Regions from separate parts of the Homo sapiens genome. Here all the other regions are linked to region 4. Evidence: fine-mapped expression QTL. A gene starts in region 4. Each other region holds a variant in brackets. All regions are shown on one strand. Distances are from middle to middle.

Region 1 (5,157 bases), 25 kb before region 4:
TATGTGAATTGCATATCCATAACAGGTTATAATTGAAAAAAGAATACTTATATAACGTACAATACACTTAATTTTAAACTGGAATGAAGGAAAGACAGAAGAAGGAATAAAAGGAAGTTAAGAGGGAGGAAGGGAGGGAGGGAAAGAGACACACACACAGATCTCAAAGAAGTCAGTCATGATCGCGGGCACACTTCTAGTGGAACAAGACTCCAGATGGAATGCATATTAGATCATATGAAGTAAGCTATTATATTTTACATATTGTATCAGAAAACTTAAGGCATGTTTCTTTAAACTAATAAATTGGGTATTTCTCACAGCTTATTTTAAATACTGTAAAATTACCTCCTCGTATTCTCCTGTGAACTATATCATCAATGTTCTTCATGTTTTATTTTCCTGACACACCAGATAAGATGTTATTTCCATTGAACACAATCCTAGTCTTCAAACTATCCACATTATTTAAGGATGCCACTTCCCACTGATCCAACAATTTGATAAGATATTATAAGACTGGAAACAATGGAGAGGAGTGGAAGATCTTTCCAGTTCATTTTCATGGGTACCAGGCATGATTACACCTACTGTTCACAGATTTCCAGTGACACTTAAAATTTTAACAATGTACTTTTCCAACCTCACAAACGTAGGGACCAAGAAAACACCTTCTGTCACAAGTACCACTGATCAACCCAGAAAATGCCACCAAAATGGTAGTAGAGAGTTAATAAATCAACTCCTACTGCTTTAAACCTCAATTCAAAAGTCTCTCTGTGACTTCCAACCTGTTTGGGTTAATCCCTAGACAGGTGGCAACCTTACTAGAGTAAATTAACCACCCCCTAATTGTACAAAAAGAGCTTGCTGGTAATTGACAGGAACACAGCTAAATATGACTGTGCCCTTAGGGAATATAAAATTTACATAACCCCCTTAGAGGTTAAGGGAATAGTGACTTCTATAAACAGAGGATTTTAATTTAACAGAAAACATTTTAAAATAAAGTTTAGGTATACAGTCTTTTAAGGAATTGAAACAGACATCATAAGCAGGTAAATACAGAACTGCTGTGGGAGAAAATTAAATTATCCAAGACTGCTTTTACCCAGAAGCTTTTTAGCCTTTGTCCTGTATGGCTTATTTTGGATGATTTTTCAACCAGATAATAAAAAGCAATTTCATTTAAGTGCTGCAGTCACAGAGTTTACCACATGAAATCCTTCTAAGCTTCATTTCCGCATCTCTTTATGGGTACACCTCTAGCATTCGTTCATTCTTTGGGTAGCATACTTTCCTCCATGTGTGTGCAGAGTCCCAAACTTCATTCCCTTATTCTCATTCACTTCAAGAAGTGGTCAGTTTGTGGAAATGTAGAAGTCGGACTTTCAGTCATCTTTATGAGCCAAAAAGTGTATTTCTTCCTTTTCCATGAAAAAGAACAGAAATCACATGGGAGGTAGTATATCTAAAATAATGAATCAAAACTTTGAAAGACCCATGCTCAGAAACATATTCATAGTGTATATATTTATATATAAAATATATGTAACACTACACAATGCGTGATGCTTTTAAAAAACCAGCATCAAGGTTATCTACTGTGACTTCAGATCAGCAGAGAGAAGGAGGCAGATAGAATTCTGGAACATGAGTAAGATAACACTCACGTCAAAACAAAAAACAAAAAAAAAACTCCTTGTCCTCAAGCACGCTAATGAAGCAAGTGATAAGCTAGAGGTCAAATTCCCACTTCTACAATCAAAACTTATCATACAAGCTCTTGAAAAGGGAGTGCATCTGTCATATGTTAATGACTTCAAGCCGTTCACTGAACTTTTAGGTGTACAGGAAAACTTAAAAGCACTTCACAACTCCTTGTGGGTATAATTAGCCTGTTGGAATTGTTGGCAATTCTCATTCTGGGACTTTAAAAGGTCACTCCACTCTTTAAGATACCAAATTTGGAGGTACTCTCCCTTCTGGACAGATTAGGCACACCCTGCAATTAGTATACACAGCTGCACCTGTTGCAAAGCCTTCACTGATGTAAATGGGGACAGTCAACAACACTCTAAATTCTTGAGGGATTA[T/C]TAGACCTTGGAAACCAAGTGATGAACAAATCTGATGTCTGCTATTGAGGTGATGGATGGTGGTCACACTCTGACTACACACAGAAGCCAAAATTTTTATTCTTTATAGACAATTCCAGCTAACGCGGAAACCTCCTCACTTGACTCTCTCAATCTTGCAAGGAGTCAACATGCAATTTTGCTATTTAACAGAACTAACTTTTTCATAATCTAGTTGAGTTTCTACAAAGAACAGAGAGAATTCCAGATTAAAAAAAAAATACAAGTTACAAAAACAGCATTATTGATTTATATAAACTTTATTAAATCATGGTGAAGTAAAAATGCTGCTAGTCACATATGGAGAAAAGTCTTTGCAGTTTATAAATTTGTAGGTCAAAGCTACTCAAATTCTCCTTTAATCTGTTAATCCTTTACAAAAGTATTATACACACTGACAATGATAGTGATTTCACGGCTATAGTACAAAATAATAATATAGATATTTAAAAGAAATGCATCTAGGAAAGAGGTATGAATTTAAGAAATCAGATTCAAAGTTTGAGAAAGTCTGATATAATCATCATTAAACAGTAGTTAAATCTTAAACATAAAGCCATAAATTATGTCCTTCCTTACTTCCGTCTTTCCTTTCTTTTTTAATGAAAGAGAAGCACAGAGGACAAGGGTCTAAATCCCCCTTTCTCTTTAAACCATGTGAATCTTAGATATTTTCTATGTCAGAAAACACAATTCTTTGGCAGCTGATATATGTGACCACATAAACAAAAAGAACTACCGTAAAGCCATTTTAAACTAAGATATTGTGCTTGGTAAATCTATTAGGCAAAGAGCCTCTTATTATCACCACAATATGTTAAATATCATCATATATGCTTAGGTGCTTTTTCTTCATATATAAATTCTTTTGAAAACATAATTGGAATTTTACAAAATAGGGAAAAAGCTTTTTTTAAAGGAGTTTTACTATATTACTGTTAAGTAGGTATACTTTCTTCTGAGTGTACTAACTATATGTGTAAATACTTTTAAAAGGTCAGCTGACATAATAATATAAAACTTAATGAGACTATTTCAAAATTAGCATTCCAACTTGAATAAAACCAACAGGAGTTGATTACATTCTTATTGCTCCCCAAAAGTATTTTCATCTGATGTTTACTCTAAAATGTGTGTGTGTGTGTGTGTGTGTGTGTGTGTGTGTGTGTACCTTTTAAAAGTCATAGAAGAACATTATGGAATTGATAATTTTTTTGGGTTTGCTGTTGGGTCTACATGGTAATCAAATTTAGAAAACCATAAATTACACTTAAATTTATTATTTACAAGCAATTAATTATAAAAAAAAAAAAGCCAGGTGGCTTTCATTACATAAATTACTGTTAATGACAGAGACCTCATGCTGCTACTGAATTTAGCATTTGCATGTGTCAAGTGCACATAGTGGTGTGTAACTCCCCTCTTCAGGGTGGAACCAAGCATTGAAGCAGAAGGCAAGCTGCCCAATTTTAAGATCACACCCGAACTGGTCCTTTCAGCCCCACATATTCCAAAGGTTTTAACATCTGTAGCAGAAAATCTGTCTTCCAATAACATTTTGTTGAAACAGCTTTAAAACCAGATATATAATTACTGATCATGAAATAGTGTTTACCTACACTTAGTTACTAAAAGTCCTATCTCTATGATTTAAATATTACCAAAAAAAAAGTTTAACCAATTTGCAGCAAACCAAGGCATCTATTAATATCTCACAAATGCAGTTTTTAAAATAATGTTTAATGTTGCCTCCCTACCACAGAAACTGTGCTAAATAAATGGACAATAACTCTTTTTTCAGGGTTCTCTGTTTTACTCAGCCTTTTGTAGTGATTCCTCCAACTCTACAGTAAGTATAAGTCCCTTCCAAAGACAAGGAAGAATTTTACCTCTTTATTCTGATAAAAAGCATGAGTTTCAATGATATAATAGGAGAGTAGGAGCTTATATGATACAGAAAGAAACACAGGAAGAAAATAAAAATAAATAGCAAATAAGTTTCATCCTATTTCAAACCCTATCCCAAATAGAGGCCTAAAGAAGTATCTCCAACCCCCTCCATCACTACCACCAGAAAAAGGAGAAAGTTTTATGAAAATGCTTTGTAAGCTATAGGATAAAATTCAAAAATTACTATAGTCTCCCTTTCTAAGCAAATAAGAAATGCTTTAAAATGTAACTGAAAATCCTAAATTGAGCTACCACTCTGGTTTTCAAGGATTAACTGCCTAGTTAGATTATCTAACCCTTTACTTTTCTTCTTCCTCTAAGAAGCCTGCCTTATAAACAACCACCAGAGAGACGGGTAACGGAAACAGGTTAGTTAAAGGGAATGTGTCTTTAGCTTCTGAGTAGTCAGTCTACATTTGGGGAGCACAGAGAAAAGGTGGGCATAAAATAAGGGCTAATAGTTAAGGAAGGAGAGTCTGCACTTACTAAGTACAAGGATAAAGTAACAAAATAAACTTTTTCAGCTAAAAGAAGGAGCTAATTTACTCACATTATCTTTGGCCAAAGTAATAATCCCAGAGGAGTGTGATTTGTATATTTAGCACCAATGATGCTGCCATGGCTCAAAAACACAACTTACCTTTTTTTTTTTTTGAGACGGAGTCTCTGTCACCCAGGCTGGAGTGCAGAGGCATGATCTCGGCTCACTGCAAGCTCTGCCTCCCGCATTCACGCCGTTCTCCTGCCTAAGCCTCCCAAGTAGCTGGGACTACAGGTGCCTGCCACCACGCCTGGCTCATTTTTTGTATATATATTTTTTTTTAGTAGAGACGGGGTTTCACCGTGTTAGCTAGGATGGCTCGAGCCTCGATCTCCTGACCTCGTGATCTGCCCGCCTCGGCCTCCCAAAGTGCTGGGATTACAGGCGTGAGCCACTGCGCCCAGCCCAACTTATCTTTAAGAATCACTTTAGAACCACTTTACCAGTTACACAAGAAAACCAACTTCACAGTCACATCTCACATCTCACCAAAATACAGGGTGGCCACCACGTCTAGAAACACAGATAAAT
Region 2 (5,157 bases), 140 kb after region 4:
GTCAGAATCACCAAAATTATAAAGTGGGAGGGGAAAAACATGCCAGTAGCTATTGAAAGATGTAACAAAGATTTGACTAATCTGAATATTTATAGTTTGTAATAGCTTATTGGCCATCATAGTCTGATAAACCTGCACTATCGCCCAGGCACACACAATTCATTGCCTAGTATCATTATGATTATCTATGGCTGTCTCATTACTCAACCATTGCTTCACTTGTATCAGGAGTAAAAATAAGCCATAAGCTTCCCTGTTGCTTAACCTAACAACAAATCATTCCAATTCCAAGCCCAATGTCTATTATTCAAAGCAAATTAGGATCGTACAGACAGATTTCTTCTTCCTTCACTGGGGCAGCTGACCTCTCTCCCCTGAAGCTGTCGACCCATGCAAATGTTACACTTAGGAACTCATTCTTGATTTTCGGGAGTTACAAATCCCTAATAACTTAACGAGCAAAACATAGAGTTAGCTTTGCAATGCTTCAGCACACAAATTAGCTAGACAAATAAAAAGGATTAAAAAAATCTTGAAAACAGCACTTATCATCAGTCTCCCATTCAGAAATAATGAAGGGAGATGGTTTATACAGACTTAGTAATAAGACACGACATAAATGTAAATATAACATGTTATGCCCTTTCTTCTGGTGAACAATAAGCATTTTGTTCATTATCCAGAGCCTCTTTGTTTATAATGAATGTGGTGATGAATCGAAGTTATGACATCAATTAAATCACAAGTTTGTATTATTTTCAAACAGACAAAATGCAGATATTTTAAGGCAGGTAGGAAAAATGATGAGTTACTGTCTATTCTTGGTCTCTAAATGAGTTATACATATTCAAAAAAGGAACATTAAAGATGCTCTACAAAGCCAGGATCATATATTACTTTTACTCTGAACAAAGATAACATTTGTAGAATGCCATTAGCAATAAATCTTTTAGATTTTTTCACTTAAAATCTTATGATCCCAATGGGAAGAATAGATAATCAGTAAATAGAACTCTGATATCTGTCAGGAATTTGCCTGAATTAGAGCTGAACTATCTTGACAGGGAGCTTGAGAAAAAAAATTACCTTTGGTATTCTGATGAATGTATTTGAATTTTTCTTTAAAGGCATCACTAAAATAGAAACAAAAGTACTTACCTTGTCACAGTTGAAAAACACAGGATGTGTAGTACATAATTACCAATGATACAAAGTAAATATCGTTGGATAAAAAATACAGACCATAGAATCATTTCAAAGAATATTGAACTTGAATATGTTATAATAAAATATAAACTGTTTGGTATTATGCATTTCTCCTTTTTGTGATTTTGTAATTTCAACGTAAGAGAGAAATATGAATTAAAAATGTTTTATAAATTTTCTCTTTTCTTTTCCAACCAATGGTTATGTAAGGAGAGAAAAAAAGAAGGGAGAGGATTTAAAGCATTCTGGAATAGTCTACATATTATGTCCAGAAAGACATGGTTCTTGTTGACTCTTTGGAGCATTGCAGTATCTGGCCCTGAATGTGATTTAGTTATGGAGTCACTGTGTATTAAATACTCAGTGCAGAAGGTTTCATATCTTTCCATCATCTTGTTTCTCTGGAAAGAAAGGGCTCCCAGAAAGGGGGACTGTAATATGCCGAGGAACTCTTCTTGAGAAGAGAGTTGCCTCGCTAACATCTCTGTGCACAACTCCCCCTGCTTTTCTCCTTAAAACATGCATTGCCCATGAACTGGAATAGAAGATGGCTCATTAGCTTCTTAGGGTCCTCTGGAAGCCATAAGAGGACAGTGGAATGTGGCAGGAGGAGTGCTGGTGGTGTCCACTTCAAAGAACAATCCTCTCTCTCAAATCAGTGTGTGACTGGTACCAGAAAAGGCCACTTAGAGTGAATCTATTCAAAATTGAAGCCAACCTTTTGTGGACAATAGTGGAAAATGGAAAGCTTTGGTTGAGCTTTATCTAAAAATAAAATAGAACATAATGAAAAAAATTAAAAAAAATGCTTAACAATGAAAACGATTCTCTAGTCCTTAGAACAAATGAAAAATTAGCCAAATCTTAATTTTTTTCAATTATCTTCCCAGCATAATTTTAGGGTATTAAATTCTCCACTGGGTACTTGACTTGAAGATCATGCTCATAAAAAGAATCAATTGTGCAAAGATATTCCATGGCTTTTTAAATTTTCAAATGAGTTTTCCTAATTATTTGGTTTTTAGCTTATTCCCTTTTGAATCTCATTATCTTTTTCATTTTCCCTATTTTCAATTTTCTGACCTTGATGGAGCCACAAAATCTTTGCCTGTGACTTGAGCAAGTCTCTAATATCACTTGAATAAATTGTATGAAGTCCTGCATTTTGAAAAGATTTTCAATTTAACTTTTTAGGTTTTTTTTCTATTTACATGGGAAGTTGTAACTATCAGATTGTTAGCAGGATTATAACTGATCAAGATGTTGATTTTGTGGATTAAGGTAGGCACTATATTAATTGCAGAGGGGAGTTTGGGTTGCTACTAATTTTACAATTGCTCAGTTCACCAGTGAATATTTTCATGCTATGACAACTTTTGATTTCCTACGGGGGATTTCTTGATGAGGAATCAGATACCTGTGTCTATCTGACAATCTACTGAAGATTCAGAGAAAACAATGCAGGGATTAATAACAGCTAAATAGCTAATATGTTTTTGAAAGTGAACTATGTTCTAAGCATTTAAACATTTGTGCCTCGGAGTTGTCACTGTGCTATGTAAGAA[G/A]GAGGGGCATTTTGGCTTCAGATTGCTTATTTTATTCTTAAATTGCTTAGACTCCTTTGCTGCAGATTCATTGTTCTATCCATCTATTACACATGCATATATGGGTGCTCACTGTCCATCAGACACTGTGCTAGGCCCTGGAGATATAGAGCTAGATCATGCAGAAAGCTCAGGATCTAGTAGGAGACACATCACTCTCTACTGTCCTGAGCAAACAGTACAGCGGAGATCTTTAAAAAAATTTTTTAAAGACTAGTTACTATGATACATTTACTATGTGTCAGAGACCACACTAGATGCTTTACTTAGATCATTTCCTTTATTCTAACAATCTGGTTGGTGGCTGACACTAGATTTGTACCTAGCTTTTTCTGAGGCCAAAGCCATGTTCTTTACCATGGTGCTCCACCACCCACTGCTTCATAGTGAATATAAAGACAAAGGTTTATGTCTAGGTACTGTGAGAACATCTAGGAGGGGACCCTAACCTAGACTGAGGATGCTTATGAAAGCCTCGCTGGGGGTGTCATTATCTTAGCTAGATGCCTGAGGACAAGTGCATAGCCTGTTGGCAAGGAAGAGCAACATGGAGATGTCGTAAAGGGATGGGTTGGATTCAGGAAATTTCTCTTTGTTTTCCTCAGTATTATAAGCATAGTTATAGTATAGACCATTTTACACTACATTACCTAGAATATAACAATGTAATTTCATTTATAATTATGTTTAGCGTTCCTAACATGAAAAAATTCCAAATAAAATCTTGTATCTAATTATTGTCCTCATTTTTGTACAAAAGATTTCAAAAGCCCACTGCCTCGGGCGGTATACTTAAGAGGGATTGTTACTCAACTGATCACTGCTTCTTCTGATTCCTTCTACAATGTATATTTACCAAGAAATGTCACATGGGATTTTGCATTTATATAATGCTTTTTAGGGCAATGAAAACCCAATATAATCAGTCGGCTTATTTAATGTTCAAAGTGCTTAATAAGCTTTTTTTTTTTTTGAATGAACCATCTAAATGAGATTTTTTTTCTTTTTTCATTAATTAACTCACCAGTGCACCAAATACGTATCAGATAAATGAGTTGATAGGGTCCCCAGTTTAGTTGAAGATGCAATACGGAAAGCACTAATTAGGCAGGCAAGAGCTCCAGATAATTAAATAGTGATTAATAGATTTTTGTACTACCAAAATTAAAAGTAACTAATTGGCTGAAAAAATATTTAAAATTGTGTGCTTGGAACTTGTATGTTGAACATGATTCTGTGGGACATGAAGATTATTTTGATTTTAAGAGTAAAGGGTTTTTTTTTTTATTCGTTTTCCCTTTTCTGACATCTTGTGTCAAAGTGTTCCCATGTTAATAGTAGAATATAATGGAAGTTTATGCAATTAAATACAGCAAGAGAATTTATAGACCATTTATCACTGGATATGGGTCATATACTGTGAATTTCAGAAAATAAAAGGGAATTCCATTTGTAGCCTAGTCTTGCCTGAAGCTCACCTAATGAAATCTTTCTCACTCATAGAATTAACAGTGTATCCAGCTGAAAAGTATTTAACATTCTCTATGCATACTAAGCATGCAAAAGTAGAATAAAACCTTGCATACTTACAGGGGATTTTTGTTGCTTTTTCTTCAGCCCAAATTAGGCAGCTCTTGTTCATTTAATGCATTTGAAAGGAGCTGAACTTTTAAAATTCTGAACTGTCAGTCCCCATCATTTCATTTGACAGCTGACACTTTGAGAGTGAAGAACACACAAATCATGTGAGTGGAGTGAAACACTGCTAATAAATGCTATTGTTTTTCCTGATGGAAAGAAGCACCTTAAACAACTGTTTGCAGATCCAATGGGTTTGTTATGATGCAAAATGCATGTTTGGCTGTCACCATTTATGTTTACTACCTGCAGAGCATAAAATTGCTGATAAAAAATTGAAGAAACATAAGGCCAGATTCATTAGGAAAAGAACCATGCTTTTTCTCCTCCCCACCTTACCCCTCAACTTCCCATTTTAATATGATAAACATTGAGTCTTCCTTCATTAAGGCATGGAACTAAATAAATAATGTATGGTTCTTGAGATAATTACAAGATTTCTGTATTTATGGAAAACACAAATTCTGAAACATTTGCTTGTCTGCTTGTACTTTGTGCTTTTTTAGCAAGCAAAGGAACTTGTGAAAATTGGCTCTGCCATTTTGGAATTTTATTTGAGAATATTCATGATCATTTTGGGGGCTTTTTGGCTTTGTTTTTCTCCCATAAAAGATCTGAGGCCAAATGTTTGTAGGTTGAACATATCCTCCTTCCTGATGCAGAAAATCTGTATATCCTTCAGATCTGTTCACCTGACTAAATCATATAA
Region 3 (5,157 bases), 110 kb before region 4:
CTTTCTGTGATGTCTTACTAGTAAATGACCAACTTACTTTATTCTACTTACACAAACATAACATTTTCATAAGGCACTAAGAAGGTTTAGCACCTATCTTATTTACTGAATGTGTGCTTTCTTTCTCACATCATGATGTAATTTACTGAGAGTAAGCAATGTAAATATTACTAAACTATCAGAAAAACAAACAGCACATTTACTCACATGGAAAAACAATAATTTTTATTCAGTGTGAAATAAAATAATTATGCTGATCAGTCTAGGAAACATCTATGCAAGTGCATTTATACATTATATGAAACTGCTACTACTTCAATGCAGAGACAACATCAGTTTCTCTGTAAACTTCCCAGCCTGTTTTATTTTGCATGACAAAAGCAATCACCAAGTTGAAATTTTGGAAAGATATGTTTCTTAATTATGCTTTGCTTGATATAAACATATATGAAATGCAAAGTCTAGAAAATAAAACTTATAAAATCTGTAGTTTTACTGGCAACAGACATAATGAAACTGCAAAAATTATAACCTAGTCGGTGAATGTAATTTATAGACATACGTCATTATCTTTATCAATTGAAATCATGTACTACATTAAATTCTACTGGCAATAACACAACCAAAAAAGGAAAGTGAATGGTGGCAAAAATGTAAGGAAAATACTCCAGACAGAATTTATAATGCTGTATAAGCAAAAACACTTAGACTTTGTCTATAATAATACCTATTATTGATGTATGGCAGTGACCATGGGCAAAACTTGTAAATAACCTCACAAGCCATTTTCTTCACCAGCAATACAGCAATCTAGTTTCCCGTAAGCATCTCAACTATTACTGAAAAATAGCCTCCTGGCATTTACAAAGCAGTTGACTTCATACTTTAGTCCGTGCATACATAATTAGATAGTTATATTTAAAATCAATATGCAATCCTTCAAAAGACATTATGCTTTTAAAACCTTAACTTTAAATTGATTTTTAACTATTTTATGTGCTTTAAAATTAACATGTAATTCAACCCCAGATACTCTGAGATGGTGTTAGTTGATATATGAATGTGCTAAACTTTCTCAGTGTTAGCAACATAAGGTTGGTACTCCTACAGTTTCTAACACTATCATTAATTTTATACTGAATATAGAAGTACAATTTCACTTTGGTTTAATAAAAAGGTGAGCTTGGGATAATGCTGTGTGTTTTTACTAATTTAAGCTAGACTGGAGAAACAGACTTGGAGGAGAAATACATAAAGGGCTGTATCTTCAATACTGAATATTCTTGTAAGAGGGCTCTGTTCAAAGGTTATTCATCAAAGATTAACTTTACTTATATAGGCATGATTTTCTTATTAAAAATGTTACGACTCTAAGCCTTTGTGAAAGAAGGTGGAATATAAACACATACATGTACACGATTTGACTAGCAGGAGTTTCCAACAAAAAGCCTCCTAACTAGTAATTACTGAGTCACAATTCATCACAGTGCCATCCATGCTAACAAAATCCATACCAGGAGGGACATGTTTATATTATTAAGAGGGGTGAAATTCATGGACTCGGATAGAAATTATTCTCATAAAAATTACTCATTATTTACCATTTAAATAGCACCTTTGAGGATTATCAAAAACCTTGCTGTTGCCACAGTACTACTAAATTTATTGATTAATAATGTCCTACTTTATGTAGTTACTGTCTGTTCAATCTTGTTTTAAAAAGTGAACATTAACTCTTTAGTAATCTCAATGTCTTTAATGAAAAGTGACTGGACATCTGTTTTCACAACCTTAAATGTATTCCAGGAGGAAAAATTAACTTGATTTCTCTAAAAATGTTTATTAGGAATCCAAATGCCGGCTCAGATTGTAATCAGCATTTAAGCAATAAGAATCTGTTGCCTTTAAAATGTGATGTCTCTGGAAGCATTTTAATCACAACCTCCTTTAACTCCAGGCTCTAAATTTATTCTCGTAAATTCAACAAAATTTGGCTCATTTTAAATGGAAATTTGTTATATTTTTAAAAAATGTTTACTGGGATGGGTAGATACATTCCAAGACATTACGTTACCTGCCTAATGACTCTGTACCTGTAAACTCATTGAAAACCAGGCAGTTTGAAAGAAGCATGTGAATGTGTGACTGCTGAACTGACATCTTCCTGTGGTCTACCTGATATTTCTTAAGCTGTAGAAAAGAATGGTCTGTAGTGACCCTCCAGTTGATTGAATGTAAAATAGAAGAGTATGAAATGTGTTTTGTGAAGCAGAACTTTATGTCAG[G/C]TTAAAGCTAGACACATCTCCACTGAGTCTAAGCTCGTCAATTGCGCACCTAAAATTTTATGGGAAAGGATACTGCTTGATGCAGTCCACTAGTGGTCCGTAACAGCAGTCGTTCACAATGCACTGCAGACAAATAAGAAAAGGGGTCTGGGGTGGGGCGGCTACAAAAACTATTACAGTAAACAATATCCTAAAAGCAGTAATTACTTTTCTTCCCCCACCCCCGCCCCCCAAAAAAAGAAAGCTATCAAAAGGCGGTTCGGATTTAATCACAGAAAACAAAAATTGCATGCTTTTTATTCACTATAAAAGCAAGCTATTAAAAAGTGAAATGCTCTTCTCGCAAATACTGCATTGCCATTTATGGTGCACCCTGACCTCAGTGATAGTTTATGATGACAGTAATTAAATGAGGTTTAAAATCCTTTACTCTGCTAGGCAGATAACAGCATTGCCACTGAAAATAGACAGCTGTGATTAATACCTGATAGACCTGATTTGCTAGAACTCCATCTGGAATCTGAGAAGGGTCCCGTAGCATACTATTTATAATAGACTTGGAGGCTGTAGAAGAAAAGAGATGAACTGTTAGCAGATAGTCAACATACTTTTAATGCAACATGAGGAGTGACATATATCTACATATACACAAACCATGAAAACAAAAATATGACTGGCATTAATCATTTTTTCCTTTTTCTATAATCTAACAGAAGCTTTTAATTAGACCATTTTGCCAAGTTTATAAGCCACACTACCAGATTTGATGATGACCTAATTTTTCCAAGGTAAATTAACAAGTACAGACCTAAAGCATATGTCTCTTTTGTAGATAAATAAGCTTCCGAAAAGCCCATTTGGGGTAAAAAAAAAAAAATCAGAAAATATTTACCTTTTGCAGGTAGTTATTTTATAACCAAGCATATGTATATGAAGAGTTTAATGAAGACAGGTCAGATCTGAAGTCTTTGAATCTGACCTGTCTTCACTAAACTCTTCATATACATATGCTTTAATTATATCAATTAAAATGGCTTTCAGCCATGAAAGAATCTTCTAATTCTAAACCTTTCCAAAATAATTCTCATCAACTGCCATAAAATCCTATCTCCATTCCACAAGTGAGGAAAGTAGGTAAAACTGACTGAATTGAGAGAATCTTAAATAAGGAAAATATATACAGAGAGAGACACACACACACAAGTTTTCCACCCAAAATATGCCTCAACTTGCAAATTAAGTTGAACCCCAAGGGAACTGCTATAGAAGAAGAGGGGGCACTAAGGGAGGCATCTGATGAAGGTGCTATAGCAAGTGACATCCTTTGGAAAGCAAGGTAGGAGATCCTGACCTCGCTGCTCACTAGGCATGTGGCAGCCACAGTAGCCAGAATTCCTTTTAATGCATGGGAGAAGGGCAGGTCTCTAGGCTGAAGCTAAGTCACGTGTTGCCTAGGTATCGATTATTTCAAGGCCTCCAGTGGAATTATTCACCACAATTTAGCAAAATGGCTTATGGTCTGATCCACACAAGCACAAATTAAAATGCATACTGAATAATTATCTAATTATCATCATTCAAGTTCTGAGATAATTTCGGGTCTAACTTGTTTTCTTTTAAGATTATGTTCTTTATCAAGCTCTATACTATAAGAACACTGATACATAAGATAAATGTTAGTGGCCAGGCGCGGTGGCTCACGTCTGTAATCCCAGCACTTTGGGAGGCCGAGGCGGGTGGATCTTGAGGTCAGGAGATCAAGACCATCCTGGCTAACAAGGTGAAACCCCGTCTCTACTAAAAATGCAAAAAATTAGCAGGGTGTGGTGGTGGGCGCCTGTAGTCCCAGCTACTCGGGAGGCTGAGGCAGGAGAATGGCATGAACCCGGGAGGCGGAGGTTGCAGTGAGCAGTGATCGAGCCACTGCACTCCAGCCTGGGCAACGGAGCGAGACTCTGTCTCAAAAAAAAAAAGAAAAAAATGTTAGTAAATACTGTGGAAATAAATAAGGAAATTACATCTTATTCACTTAAAAATAGTATTGGGTCTGCAAAGAAAAAATGAAGCATGATTATTTTAATTACTGCCCACTGTTAGTCATATAACTACATGCTTATAGCAACACTTATGTACTTAGCCATTTGTGAACACGTGTTTGCACTGCAAGTGAAAAGGTCATATGGAATCTCCAAAAGAGCATCACCCAGCTATCCTATCCAGCCCTATCTCTACAACTGGCTCTGCAACCTTGGCAAGTTACATAGCTTCCCAAGTTTAATGCCCATTGCTATCTGTAGAAAGTGAAAATATTATTTAAGCTGACTACCGAAATAAAGTGTTCTTGTGTGGTCTCTAGAGAAGACAGCTAAAGCACTATTTTGCTAAGTTCAAGTAATAGTAAGAATCAAATCAAACTTAGGTATTTACTTCATACAAACCATAGGGTTGGACTCAATTATTTCTGAAAGCAATTACCACTGATAAGTGGTAAAAATATCGGGAATAGGAAACAATGAATCATCTTCTTATAAAAGAAAAGATTACAGCAGCAATAGTATTAAAAAAATAATGTGCCTGGGAAACTCAGTATTCCCAACCTAATTCTAAGGCCTGGCCAGTCAGAGGGGACCAAAGCAGTTGTCCATACCTTTCATTACCTTCTAGAGGGAACTCTCTCTGGCCTGCCACTCGAGTCACCACATGGTAATGGCAGACACATTCTTTTATGTTGCCCATAATGCCAGCAGAGGCCTAAGAAAATAGGAGCACCTTCTCTGTATGGACCCCAGTCATGGTACATTCCAACTCTCATGAACCCATGTGAGGAAGAGATCACTAATATGTAAGTGGCCATGACTAAGAACGCTATCCT
Region 4 (5,157 bases):
TGGTACAAAAACAATGGTGAGTAAAACTGCCAGCTCCTGAGCATAAAACAAGGCACAAATCATAGGCATCATAACTGTACTAGTAGTCACTGTATTCACTGCCACACACGTGCAGGAAAAACAAAACAAAACAAGACTTTCACTAAAGAATATTCTCTTATTAATTGCATTAAATCTCAACCCTTGAATACACAACCTTTTAACATTCTGTATGACTAGAGTAAATACAAAGCACATATACTTCATATCAAAGTATGATGGTTGCCTCCCAGGAAAGCACTTGTATGACTGTTTGAGAGCTGAACTAGCTACTTTTTCTAGGGAACACCATTTTTACTTGAATTAATGATAACAAAGTATATTATTCAGATTTAAGTATCTGGCAGACACTTTCTCAAAAATAAACAATGTGAGCCTGTCATTTCAAGGAAAACAACTAATAGCATTTGTTGCCAATGATAAAATTTGAGCTTTCAAGGGAAAATTCAAATACTGGAATGCTCATATCCATCACCACAAGCTTGACAGCTTCAAATCTTACAGACTTCTGATGAGATTAGAGATGATATTAACAAATGTAATTTTTTGATATTGTATAATGAAAGGTGACATTTGTAAGATCTGCACAACTCACAAGCAACATTTTACAAAGGAATAATGCACGATGATAACAAATCAGGCATGGGTAAAAGATCCATTCAAGTTCAAAATAGGCCAATGGATTGTAATGCAACAAGGTAACAATCACCTTGATGTGGTGATTCACCCACCTCAGCCTCAGGAGTAGCTGAGTAGCTGGGTCTAAAGGCACATGCCACCACACCCAGCTAATTTTTTGGATTTTTATTAGAGACGGGGTTTTGCTACGTTGCCCAGTCTGATCTGGAACTCCTGGCCTCAAGTGATCCTCCCATCTCGGCCTCCCAAAGCGCTGGGATTACAGGCGTGAGCCACCACACCCAGCCCTAAATAGCTCTTTAATCCCTTCTTTTGCGGATTAGTAGTTCAGCTCTCTCTAAATAAAGTTTCCTGTGGAAGGAGAGTTGTTATTTATTCCCTGTATGGCATTTGGGAGAAGTGAAAAAGATTTGAGTATATCATGAATAAGAAAGAAAAGAGCATAAGAGAATACACCAGACAGAAGGGAGGCTTTTGTAAGTGTTGATTAAAGTAACAGACACTTACTTATTATAGAGAAGACAAGGTATTTGCTAGAGAAAAGAACGAAAAAGAGAAAAAGAGGGAGAGGAAGAGAAAAAAAAGCAAAATTACAAGTGATTGCATACATAGTGAGAGGAGAATATCAAAATGTATGCTCTTTCTTAAAACTGCCCAGAAAAATCTACCTATTCCCTTGGCTGACCAGTCTTCACCCATTTCACTGTTCATGTGCAGAACTGGCAAGAGTTAATGACAGAAAATTAAATTATGTGTCAATTTTGTTCCTTCTTAGCAAGTCTGATAAAATACTAAAGGCTATAAAGGGATAAATATTGCCCTAAATCAAATCTGGATAATATTGAAAAGAGACTCCTTCATTTTACAGACTAGGAAAACCAAGTCCTTCAAAAAGCAAAGTCATAACAGAACTTAAACTTATGCTTCAATTTGTACTTTGATACCTATTATCCAATTACCTTTCTTTTCTCAAGAAATTACTTCTGTCGTGTTTGTTCAGGGACTGAATACGTCAAGGATGGGGAAGCTCTCCATTAGGAATAACCATGCTCAGTGCCACAAAACAAAATGGTACAGGTTTGGATTTGGTTTTTCATTAGGAAAAAAGTAAACAAACATTCTCTGCTTTTAACACAACATAAATACAGTGACCTGGTTGTCCTCAACTGGTTCCTCATGTAATGTTGGGGTCTCAGTTTCCACTTCATTAAAATGAGAAATCTACATAATTCCCAAAGTCCTTTCTTAGAAAGTTGGATAATTCTAAAATCGCTGAAAAAAGAAGTGTTTGGGGGAGGAAGTATGAAATACACCCGGAATGTGTGTATGCATAACATATATGGAGAAACTTTAGATCTGGTTGTTCAAATGGCCAATGACCCAAGAGTGGAATCCCTGGGTACCCTGCTCTCTGATTGGATTGAGAACCCTTGAGGTCACTTAATTCCACAGTTAACAGTACAAGCCACAGTCAAACAGTATGAAGCCGCTTTACCTCTATGCTCCCTTGTTTGTTTCCAACGGCCAATTGAAAAGGGTCCTCCATTTGCTCCTTTCGAATCTACAATTCATATTCCCACCCATCATTCATTCCTACTATCTGTCAATTAACCTCTGGTCATTTATGAAGCACCTACTATGTTCACCCATCACCTAGCACGTACCACGTTTTCCATAAATATCTGTTGACTTGAATTTAATTGCAAGGCCTTGGAAGGCTGCCATGAACTCACCGTTAAGAGTTTTGTGTGGAAGGCGAGTGAAAGAATAAACCTTTTTTCGCCAACCTCGACCTCCTAACGCCTGACACTGGTGTTCCTCCCCACTCATGTGTGACACGTGGTTCCTAAGCGCTGCCTGGGCGGCCCAGGCACTGCTGCTGCAGGCAAAGGGCTGTGAGAGGGGAGAGATGGACACTTACCTGGGAAACCTCTGCTTCAGCTTCCTCAGGCTCTGCCTGGTAGGCGGCACAGACACTAGGCACTGGGCTATCTCGTCGTACTGAGCTTTGGTCAGTATCATGTTGGGCCAGGGACCAGGAGGTGGCGGGAACAAGGAAAAAACACCCTGGGGCTCAAGTAGCCTTGGTGCCGAGGGATGAGGGGTAGGCAAAGCGGCACAGGCCCGGGTCCTCGCCTGCTTGGCTTGCCCCAATCCCCCCTGAAACACACCCCTAGCTGCAAAAGCGGGGCGGAGACTCGCCCGGTCCCAGGCTCCACCGGCACCTCCGCGGCGGGGACTGGCTGTACACCAGAGTGCCCTAGCTTGGCTTACTGAGCAGCCGCAGTGGTGCGCCGAAGGCAACTAGCCGCCATGTCAGTTAAGGGCAAACCAACCAGGAAGTAGCGGCCGCCCTTGGAAAGGCGCCGCGCCAGAGTTTCAGTAGGCAGGTAGGAATCCAGGGCATCGCCCACCTAGGATCAAAGGGTCAACAAGGGATGCTTTGTACTCTCCCAATTACTAGAAGCCAGGGCGGCCTGACGCACAGACCAGGCGGCAGGTCTCACGAGTGCCCCGCGATCCTTCAGCGTGAGCCCCCGAAAGCCCCTGCCAGAGCGCGCGATTTGAATACACTTCCTAACGCGCCAGTTTGAGCGCTCCTCGGAGCGTGGACTGGCCTGCCGAGAAACCATGTCTTCACTCTACCAAGTCTGTCATGGTCCGAGCAGGAAAACTCACTAGGGTCGCTGTAAACATAATTTGGCTTGTGTTGAGGAAGCCCTACAACTTCTGTACATCGCGTGGAAGGCAGTTTTGTCCTTGTTGAGAAACAGACTTGAAACAAATCCGACGTCATCAAACAGCCGGCAGTAAAGAATGTCACTTTTGGCCGGGCGCGGTGGCTGACGCCTGTAATCCCAGCACTTTCGGAGGCCGAGGCGGGCGGATCACGAGGTCAGGAGATCGAGACCATCCTGGCTAACACGGTGAAACCCCGTCTCTACTAAAAATACAAAAAATTAGCCGGGCGTGGTGGCGGGCGCCTGTAGTCCCAGCTACTCAGGAGGCTGAGGCAGGAGAATGGCGTGAACCCGAGAGGCAGAGCTTGCAGTGAGCCAAGATCGCGCCACTGCACTCCAGCCTGGGCGACAGCGAGACTCCGTCTCAAAAAAAAAAAAAAAAGTCACTTTCACTCCTTGCAGTTAGCTGCTCAAGGTCTAAAATCGCATCTTATTGTAACCCCAGTTCTCAGAAAATAGTAGGCGCTCAATAAATGTTTGGAGTAATGAGCCAATCTTTTTTTATTTTCTATATGTATTGTGAATGGATCTCAGTTCTCCTAAAGCAATTTGTTGGGATATCAGTCCCTCATTTAATCTCTTTTCTAAAATCTGTTTGGTTCTTAGAAGGTCATGTGTTGTGTTTCTCTTCTGATTTCAACAATTTAAGCAAACTAAAGCAAAGGTGCTTAGACTTTAGAGAACCTGTAAGTGGTTTAAAATTTTTCATCTGGAATAATGCCTGGGTTGGAAGTTTTAGATATACCTCCTTGAATAAATTCCTTAATCCATCGAAGCCTCATTTCTTTTGTCTGTAAAACTGATTTAATTCATGGAGGTGTTTTATTTGTGTATGTTTGATGTAGAGATGGAGTCTTACTCTGTCGCCCAGGCTGGAGTGCAGTGGCTCCATCGTGGCTCACTGCACCCTCGAACTCCTGGGCTCCAGCGATCTTCCCACCTCAGCCTCCCGAGTAGTTGGGACTACAGGCACATGCCACTACACCTGGCTAATTTTAAAATTTTTCTCTAGAGATGAAGTCTCGCTTTATTGACCAGGCTAGTCTCAAACTCCTGACCGGAAGTGATGCTCCAGCCTCTACCTCCCAAAGTACTGGGATTACAGGCATTAGCCACTTCGCCCGGGCATGGGCTGTTTTTAAGATTAACAGGCTGGTACAAATAAAAGATTATATAGCGTGGTGTCTAGAGGATAGTCTATGTGAAATATTAGGTTGGTGCAAGAGCAACTGCGGTTTTGGCCATAAATAAATAGGCTAAGTAAGACTACTTGATAAAAATGGACAGGGCGTTTACTAGGTATTGTTTTACAGGCTCCCCATGCACAGACTCGCTTAATCCTCATAACTTCCTGCCAGGCAGGTACTATTGCTGTTATCCTCCTCTTCCCTTTTGTACAGAGTGAAAAAACTAAGACATGAAAAGGTTAAGGAACTTCTAGAGGTCATGAGGATAAGTAGCAGTAGTAAGATTTAAACTCCTGAAATTTGGTTCCAGAGTCAGTGCTCTTGCCAACTTTCAGTAATGCTTAATTACTACATCAAATAGTCACACTGTCTTAAGCCAAAGGTTAAGGATTTTTTTTTAAAGGGAATATTGTACATTTCAAAGAATCTTTTAGCCTTGGTTTTTAAAAACTTCACTACTTTTAATTTTCTGAGGCATCTCAAAATCCAATACCAACAGTGGATCCTGAATTTAACAACCATAGTTTTTCCTGAATATTGACATCAGAATG

Alleles and levels. Positions count from the first base shown, and alleles are read on the strand shown. Sizes are in standard deviations (SD) of each study's normalised expression. Not every link is listed here.
In carriers of allele T in region 1, the expression in skeletal muscle of the gene that starts at base 2,935 in region 4 tends to be lower than with C alone (moderate effect, 0.70 SD a copy in GTEx).
With allele A in place of G in region 2, the expression in monocytes of the gene that starts at base 2,935 in region 4 is higher (large effect, 1.4 SD a copy in Fairfax 2014).

What was found.
Region 1: its variant is fine-mapped to the expression of CDIN1 in skeletal muscle (GTEx, PIP above 0.99).
Region 2: its variant is fine-mapped to the expression of CDIN1 in monocytes (Fairfax 2014, PIP 0.95).
Region 3: its variant is fine-mapped to the expression of CDIN1 in tibial nerve (GTEx, PIP 0.90).

The regions. Positions count from the first base shown.
Region 1 is chr15:36,602,566-36,607,722 of GRCh38, reverse strand. The region is part of intron 1 of CDIN1 (CDAN1 interacting nuclease 1); the gene reads right to left. Among named protein-coding and RNA genes, the nearest start is that of CDIN1, 26 kb to the right of the region's middle. The variant T/C (reference allele first, on the strand shown) is at 2,097.
Region 2 is chr15:36,433,732-36,438,888 of GRCh38, reverse strand. It overlaps LOC105370769 (a long non-coding RNA gene), which reads left to right. Exons shown (of 4, transcript XR_932111.3): 4 at 1-1,308. Among named protein-coding and RNA genes, the nearest start is that of CDIN1, 140 kb to the left of the region's middle. The variant G/A (reference allele first, on the strand shown) is at 2,772.
Region 3 is chr15:36,689,377-36,694,533 of GRCh38, reverse strand. It overlaps CDIN1 (CDAN1 interacting nuclease 1), which reads right to left. Exons shown (of 11, transcript NM_001321759.2): 6 at 2,770-2,849; 7 at 2,359-2,408. Among named protein-coding and RNA genes, the nearest start is that of CDIN1, 110 kb to the right of the region's middle. The variant G/C (reference allele first, on the strand shown) is at 2,286.
Region 4 is chr15:36,577,404-36,582,560 of GRCh38, reverse strand. It overlaps CDIN1 (CDAN1 interacting nuclease 1), which reads right to left and starts at 2,935. Exons shown (of 11, transcript NM_001321759.2): 1 at 2,600-2,935. The coding sequence starts at 2,700. RefSeq lists an enhancer at 2,697-2,816.